Homo sapiens: one gene and its partner. The protein of the gene in region 2 purifies or fractionates together with the protein of the main gene of each other region. This does not show direct contact. Each region holds a gene or a part of one and is shown on either strand. Other genes may lie near its edges. The genes, in order: CST8 and MGST2.

Region 1 (4,426 bases), on a different chromosome or scaffold from region 2:
ATTTCCTGTGCCATGGCAGTGCATAAAGCAGTGGTTCTCAAAATGATCCTAAGGCCAGCAGCAGCAGCAGCAGTAGCACCACTCAGGAACTCATTAAGAATGCAAATTCTTAGATCCCATTTCCTGAATTGGAAACTCTGCCGGTGGAACCCGGTCATCAGGGTTTGTCAATACCTCCAAGTGATTGTGATGCCTGCTCACATTGGAGAACCACCAATGTAAAGACAGGGACAGTGATGCACCTGTTGGGCAAACCTGCAGAATGCTCAGGCCTTCATCTGTCTGGGACCAAGTACTGGCCTATGAGCTGCTCTGAGATAAAAAATACAGGCTTGAAGCCAAAAGCCCCTGGGCCAAGTCCTCCTTTTGTTGGGAGTCTGTGGGTTTGCCCCAACCTTCCTGGAAACCTGGACTGACCCCAGCAAAAATCAACTGTAAACCCAGGAGGGTGGGGCCACCCTCTGGCTTAGTCATTGCTTAATCTCCAGCACCCAGAATAGACCTGGTGCAAAGCACGTAGCACCTGGTGCTCAGTAATTTTCTATGAGTGGATGAGTGAATGAATGAAGTTCCTTTTGTGTCTGTATGGGGATGAGTGACCATGGGCCCAGCAATAGTGGGTGGCTTGTCTGGACCCAAGAGGACAGGCTTTTGGTGATTATGTGTTGTCCAGTGTGCCTGCATCAAAAGGCCAGAAGTCAATGGAGCCCTTGAGATAAGAGTGGTCTTGACAACATCCTTTCTGCAGGATGAAGGATGAGAAAGAAGCTCAGAGGGTTCCACCACGTTCCGTGGCCCTGGATCTTCTGCTATAAAGGCCACAGGGTTGGCTATCTGGGGCTAAACACTGGGAGCCACCCAGACCTCAAAGAGAAGGTCTGCGTGCCTCAGCTTTCTCTCTTGGGTTCAGAGCTGCCTAGGCCGTCACAGATGAGTGGTTCATCACCTACCCTTTTCAGCTTGGAGTTTTCTTGAATGGCGCAGATTTCATTAGTGCTTAAAGGCTTTCTGCAATCGCTGCGGGCAATTTCTACATCAATAAGGTATTCCAGAAGATTTGTGACCTGTTGGTTAGCAATTATGCAATTTTATTCAAAAGAGTTGTACTTTTTTAAAGTTTTGACAAAAAAAAAAAATTACTCTTACTCTCGTCCTTTCCTCTTTCCTTCCTCCCTCACCCCCAGACAGAGCTTTAGCGGAAGGCTAAGATGCCCACTGCCTGGAGCCCTGTGTACAACAAGATCAGTCAGGACTCCATAGGCTCCTGGAGCTGGACACTTGAGTAAAGACTCCTCTCCAGTTTGTCACCTCCTTGAAAGCAAGGCCTTCTCATTCCATTTCCTGTCCCCAAGCCCAGGGCATGCTGCATGCTCAGTGAGGACTGAGAGGTGAAAGGTGGGCTCTTCAGAACCATCAGCTCTCCTGGGCCTGAGATGCTCAGGTTCACACAGGCCTGACCAGGGGACAGCCCCCTCAGCCACATTAGGCCCCAGTCCCTCAGATTCCTGTGAAACCTCCCATCCTCTGGGGTTTCCCCACCCAAAGCCCCTCCCACCAGCTCAGCACACAGTCCATGAGGACCCATGCAGGCATGAGTTTGCCTGTCTTGTTCTCTGCTGAGTCTTTAGTGAGTAGAACAGCAGTAGGTTTATAGCAGGACATTAGTATTTGTTGAACTCATTAGTGACTGAATGCAATCAAGGCTACTTGTGATGTCCATTTAAATCTGTTTTCATCTGGCATTAAAGGATTACAGCAGGAGATGAAGGAGTGTCTGCTAGTTGGGTCCAGGTTCACCTGGACTCACCTTTATCAGATCTTTTCTCATGGCTAGCATTCTATCTGTCTCCCAACCTTAGCAAATACATGAACATTTGATTTGCAGTTTGGGGTTTAAATGAGTTAATCTATGCGAAGGACTTAGAACAAAAGCGCAAGCGTTTGTAGAAAGTGCTCTGTGTGTTCACTGCCTTATTGATGCTGTGGAAGTGTCTAGGCTCTTAAGCATTCACATATTTAGGATTTTTGCATAGTGATATTTTTCTTATATGCCCACTCTTTCAGTCTGGCTTCAACTGTGCCACCATATGCAAATGTCCACCTATATGGAAAGACACCTTTACCTGAAGCTGGGCTTGCAGTGTCTTGACCACCAGGAAGACATACTTGTCCTCGCTCTCTTTGTTGTATTCTTGCATGGCAAACCACAGACACTGCTTCACGTTGGCATTTGAGGCATTGACGGGTTTTAATTTCCTCAGCACCCCTGTCTCATTCTTTTTTGGGTCTTTCCTGGCCACCAGGGCCAGGGGAATGGTGAGGAGGATCAGGGAGAGCCACCGGCACCTGGGCATGGTCCCTTGGGCAAGAGGCAAAGTCGACTCTCCTCCTCGTCGTCTCAGGGCTGGAGCTGTGGGCAGGATGGGGTGGCCGCAGCTGCTGCTGTGGGTTCAAGAATCTTCGAGCCACACACTGCCTCCTGTTAGCGTCAGCCCAGCTGGATTCAAGACAGGCCATTAGGGTCACTCTTTGGGGTTTGTCCTCTCTTTCTCCATGGAAACCCACCCAGGAATGCCAGTTAAGGAGTCTCTCTACCAGCCTCCCCTCCTTACCCTGAGAGCAATCTGTGTGTCTAGGGAGAGTTCCTCTCCCCTTCGGCCCCAGTGTGTCTATGCCTACCCCTGTGAGCGTCACTCTTGTTATCTGCTTCTCAGTCCTGTATGATGTGATCATGAAAACTGTGGCTGCCCCAGAGGCCTTGTGGCCTCAGCCCTTGGTGGACTTTCAGCCTGCTGTGCCTGCAGCTCCTTCTTACTCCCTGTGGAGCTGGGAGCTGACCTGACCAGTGGTTCTCCTAGGTCTTCAGCACTCTTAGTTCATGCCTGTGGCCCAGTCAAGGGTCTCTGTGGGTCCTGGTCTGCGGTCTCTCTTGCCCCTCTGAGTCCACGCCCTGCAGGGAGGTTACGCTTTGTGATGTAATTCAGCACCTGTGTCTTGTCCCAGTGAGGACATCTCCCACTTGCCAGCCTCCGGCCTTTGGTCTAAACAGCTCTCACAGGGGCACAGAGAGCAAGCAAATGCCTCCTGCTGTGCCCTCAGAGTCAGGGGCCTGCAATGGTTAATACTGAGTGTCAACTTGATTTGATCGAAGGACACCAAGTATTGATCCTGGGTGTGTCTGTGAGGGTGTTTCCAAAAGAGATTAACATTTGAGTCAGTGGGCTGGGGAAGGCAGATCCACCTTTAATCTGGTGGGCACAATCTAATCAGCTGCCAGCGAATATAAAGCAGGCAGAAAAACGTGAAAAGGAGAGATGGTCCTAGCCTCCTAGTCTACATCTGTCTCCCATGCTAGATGCCTCCTGCCCTCGAACATCAGACTCCAAGTTCTTCAGTTTTGGGACTCTCAGACTGGCTCCCCTTGCTCCTCAGTTTGGCAGACAGCCTGTTGTGGGCCCTTGTGATCATGTAAGTTAATACTTAATAAACTCCCTTTTATATACATATTATTTATATATATAATTTATGTATATTTTATATATATATAATTTATATGTATATTTTATATATATACAATTTATATATATATTTTATATATATAATTTATATATAATTTTTATATATAAATTATATATATTTTATATATAATTTATATATATAAATTATATATATTTTATATATAATTTATATATATAAATTATATATATTTTATATATATAAATTATATATATTTTATATATATATAATTAATATATATATAATTTATATATATATTATATATATAATTAATATATATATAATTTATATATATATTATATATAATTAATATATATATAATTTATATATATATTATATATAATTAATATATATATAATTTATATATATATTATATATATAATTAATATATATATAATTTATATATATATTATATATATAATTAATATATATATAATTTATATATATATTTTATATATATATAAAGGGGAGTTTATTAAGTATTAACTTTATATATATACACAACCATATATATCCTATTAGTTCTGTCCCTTTAAAAGAACCCTGACTAATACAGGGCCCCTCTGGCATCTTCTGCCCACCTGTGCCAATGACTCTGGCTTCCTGAATGCCTGGCCTCTGAACTCCCTTGGCTTGGGCCAACAGTAACCCCCTGCCCTGTCCTGCCAGGGTAAGGGTCACGTGGCCCACTCTGATGCCCAGGCCTGGCCCTTAGTGGGAGGAGGGGGGCACGCACCTGTTAAGCTCTCAAAGCTTCTGCTTTTCTGTGAAAATCCCAAATCAGTGTCCAGAAAGTTCCTGGTGAGGCAGAGAGGTGAGCATTCTTCCTAGGCTGCAAAGATCAATGGGTTCTATGAGCAAGGGCAACGTACAGAAAACACATATGGGGCAGGAATCTGTCAGGCAGGTG
Region 2 (4,329 bases):
AGCTGGTCCCCCACCTCCACAGGTTTTTGTAATAAACCTGTGTTGTTGTAAAGCCTCTCTCTCTCTCCCTCTCCCCCTCTACCCCCTCCCCCTCCTCTCTCTCTCTCTCTCTCTGTGTCTTTCTTGAACCCCACCTTCCCTTTAAAAAATCTAACACTTAAGACTTTTTGTAGAAATAAGACACCAAATTCCAGCCTGACTCCAGTATAGCATCACATGACAGATAGCAGGCCTTGAAAGAAATTGAAGTATTTTACCCTAAAATATATTTCTTTGTCATATTTTGAAATGGTCCTGCAAAGTTGTCTCTTGTGGGGAAAGTCTACATTCTGTAGAAAATCCCTTTCCCTTGCCAGGTCTTTTCTCTGATCCAGGAGAGAATTAACAGAGTCTGGCACCTTTTCAAGTCTCATAAGAAACATTTACAATCTATTCTCTCCAAACGCTGCTACCTGGAAGCTTCATTTGCATAGTAAGAACCTTGGCCTCCACAACCCCTTATCTTAACCCAGGCACTCCCTTCTATGGATTTGAGGTCTGTAGATAAACTCTTTTAATCAATTGCCAATCAGAAAATCTTTAAATCCACCTATGACCTGGAAGCCCATGCCCCACTTCCAGTTGTCCCGCCTTTTGGGACCAAACTAATGTACATCTTACATGAATTGGTTGATGTCTTATGTCTCCCTAAAATGTATAAAACCAATCTGTAGCCAGACCCCTTTGGGCAGATGTTCTTAGAATCTCCTTGGGCTGTGTCACCGGCCACTCGTCCCTCATGTTTGGCTCAGAATACAGCTTTTCAATTATTTTACAAAGTTCAACTCTTCATCAACATCTTTTTTTTTTCTTTGAGATGGAGTCTCGCTCTGTTGCCAGGCTGGAGTGTAGTGCTGTGATCTCAGTCCACTGCAACCTCCCCCTCCCAGGTTCAAGCGATTCTCCTGCCTCAGCCTCCCTAGTAGCTGGGACTACAGGAGCGTGCCACCATGTCCAGCAAATTTGTGTATTTTAAGTAGAGACGGAGTTTCACCATGTTGGCCAGGATGGTCTCGATCTCTTGACCTCGTGATCCACCTGCCTTGGCCTCCCAAAGTACTCGGATTACAGGGGTGAGCCACCGTGCCCGGCCCTAACACCTTGTCATTAAACATTCCCTGTCCACCATTAATCATCATTCACCCAGTCTCCTCTCCTCTCTCCCCACCCCTACCCCCACTCCATCCAGCCCCCTAACATTCTGGCCCCAGTTCACACAGCCCCCTGCACAAGCAGCAAACAGGGAGGATGAGCACCTCTGTCAGCTTTGGGACATCTGTGGACCTGCAGGCCTAGGATAAAGGCGCATGCAGGTTTGGTAGCACCTGTGAGTCAGGATGCTACCAACAGTGAGCCTTAGACCTGCTAAATTAGGTTTAGCCTAAAGCTGCCTTCTGACATATTTTAAGTTCAGCCTAAAGGTTTCTCCGTACATCGTGAACTATATGCTTCCGTTTTCTGGGAGTCGCTTTCCTTTTTCTGTCCATAAATCTTCTTCTACCACGTGGCAGCCCCAGAGTCTCTCTGAACCTATTCCGGTTCCCCATGCCCAACTGTGAATCGTTCTTTGCTCAATTAAACTCAGTTAAATGTAATTTGTCTAGGGTTTTCCTTTTAACAGATCTAAGTGCTTCTTTAATTAGAAACAAATATCCTGCTCTTCTCCACAACAGATTGTGTGAATCAAACCACAAAACGTGAGTCTGAAGGTTCAAGATCTTCATACAATCTCAAAACAGACTGGCTAGGCAAGACATTGAGCATGCACGGAGGCCTGGACTGGATCCTCAGCTGTGAGGCCTTCCTGCTTCTGGCTGTTTGTGTAACCTGAGCAGTCTACGGCTTGGCCCTATTTCCTGGTACAGGCATACTTGGAAATATAAAGAAATATGCATGCTTGGTAAGAAGTCTTGCACTCTTGCACTCGGACCCCTTTCCCCAGCTGACATTGTAGGTAAGATAATATGAATTGAGCAAATGTGACTCCCATGGAGTAAAAGCCCTCTATTTAACCAGGCAGTCGAGATATTGAATAATCCTAGTGGGAAGCTGTTTTAAAATTTAGAGCTAATTACTTAATCTAAAGCTAATATTTCTGAAGGAAGTTTTTTTCAATCTGATAATCATACCACCATAGGCAGTTTATTTAAGAAAACACATTAATTAAAACATCAACGTTCAAGAAATCACAACCAGGTTTAGAAGCAGGCACGTTTCCTTTGGAACACTTGTAATTAATATTCACACCACTTCCTGCAGGTTAGCAGGCTACTAACGCTCGTTTGAACGGGCTGTGGGTCGTAATCACAGATGATGCAGAATCGCTGAGCTCTGAGGCCCCACAGCGTTCCAGTTGGGAGAACTAATCTCTGGAATGTTCTCAGTCTCTGCTTGCCCCTGGGAAGGAGGGTAGCAGGCGGCATGGGTGACCCTGAGGCGACTGTGCTCTGAGGACCCAGAGCTACCTGCAAGGGCAAGTAGGAAACAAAACACCGGACCCATCTCCCTCCCTCCCTCTCTCTCCCGCAAGCCTTGTCACACACACACACACACGCACACACGCGCACACACACGAACTTCCCATGCCTCTTACTTTGCTGACAGGCCGAGAGAATAGAGACAGCAGCCAGCAGGATCGAGTTCCCGGCCATCTTTCTCACGGAACTATTTGTAGAGCGCACGGGAAGATAAATGGCGCTTCTTGACTTTGAATGCTGACCTTCCTTATCGGGTAAACAAAGTTGGGGACCGGGTGGGGGGAAAAGGCTGATTCAAGCGGCTGAATGACCTTTGCTCTGGAACAGAAGTCAGGAAGGCAGGCAGGTCTGGGGCTGCCGGTCACAGATCTTTATGGGGCTGGGAGTTGCTTCCGGCGTTTGTTTTAAGCCTCTCCCACGGCCAGCGGGCAGGGCTGTAGCTCACTGTGGGACCAGCCCTCCAGCCGCAGTGCCAGTTACACTATCTTCTCTGCCAATGCACAGACTCTCTGGATCCCTTTCATCCCCACGCCCTTCCCTCCTAGGGCCTTGCTGAGACCTTTCTCACCTCCTGTGGAAAAAGTGAGAAGGAACTACTTACTTAATCCTGTTGACATTTTAAATGCTAATTTAAGCCAGTTCTAATGTATTCACGCTCTGAATGGCCGATTTAGGATTTGAACCCAGTCTAGCAGATTACAACTGTGCCCTATCCCCTGCACCAGGCTGCCTCTCACTGTCACCTAGAGACTCTGATAATAATCATACTTTTTTTTTTTAAGACAGGGTCTTGATCTGTCACCCAGGCTGGAGTGTGTGGTGGCACGATCATAGCTCACTGCAGCCTCCAACTCTTGGGCTTAAGTAATCCTCCTGCCTCAGCCTCCCAAGTAGCTAGAACTACAGCCACAAGTCACTGTGCCCAGCCATTTTTAAAAAAATAAACCGGCCGGGCGCGATGGCTCACACTTGTAATCCCAGCACTTTAAGAGGCCAAGGAGGGTGAATCACGAGGTCAGGAGATCAAGACTATCCTGGCTAACACAGTAAAACCCCTTCTCTACTAAAAATACAAAAAATCAGCTGGGCATGGTGGCACGAACCTGTAGTCCCAGCTACGCAGGAGGCTGAGGCAGGAGAATCTGCTCTTTAGAGATGCAGATTCTGGCCTGGAAGGATGGCTCATGCCTGTAATCCCAACAGTTTGGGAGGCTGAAATGGGCAGATGGTTTGAGCTCAGGAGTTCGAGACCAGCCTGGGTAACATGGCAAAACCCCATCTCTTAAAGAAATACAAAAATTAGCAGGGCATGGTGGCACGTGCCTGTAGTCCCAGCTACTTAGGGGGCTGAGGCAAGGGGATTGCTTGAACCCAGGAGCCTGAGACTGCAGTGAGCCAAGGTCGTTCCACTGCACTTCAGCCTGGGTGACAAAGTGAGACCCTGTCTCAAACAAATAATAAAAATAAAGATGCAGCTTCCCAAAAACCAGAGCTGGGGGCCTTTCCTCACCCCATCCTACAGCACCATTAGAGGGTATATCTTGGCTCAAGCTGCTATAACAAAGATACCATAGACTGGGTGGCTTACAATAGCAATTTATTCGTCACAGTCCTGAAGGCTGGGAAGTCCAAGATGACAGTGCTGGCCAATCAGTTCCTGGTGAGGGCCCTCTTCCTGGTTTGCAGAAGGACACCTTCATGTTGGAGACAGAGAAAGAGTAAGCTTCCTGGTCACTTCTTATAAGGGCACAGATCCCATTATGGGGGCCTATGCTCATAACCTCACCTGTAGCTAATTATCTGCCAAATGCCT

The links.
Region 1: the proteins of MGST2 (region 2) and CST8 purify together in Homo sapiens (affinity purification with mass spectrometry; one large-scale study listed by BioGRID and IntAct). This does not show direct contact.

The regions. Positions count from the first base shown.
Region 1 is NC_000020.11:23,489,596-23,494,021, reverse strand, and holds the start of CST8 (cystatin-8 precursor), read right to left. Parts: upstream 2,906-4,426; 5' UTR 2,680-2,905; exon of another isoform or gene 2,613-2,679; intron 2,498-2,612; 5' UTR 2,355-2,497; coding exon 2,124-2,354; intron 1,065-2,123; coding exon 951-1,064; intron 1-950. UniProt on the Homo sapiens protein: Performs a specialized role during sperm development and maturation.
Region 2 is NC_000004.12:139,664,381-139,668,709, reverse strand, and holds the start of MGST2 (microsomal glutathione S-transferase 2), read right to left. Parts: upstream 2,892-4,329; 5' UTR 2,691-2,891; coding exon 2,633-2,690; intron 1-2,632. UniProt on the Homo sapiens protein: Catalyzes several different glutathione-dependent reactions. Catalyzes the glutathione-dependent reduction of lipid hydroperoxides, such as 5-HPETE.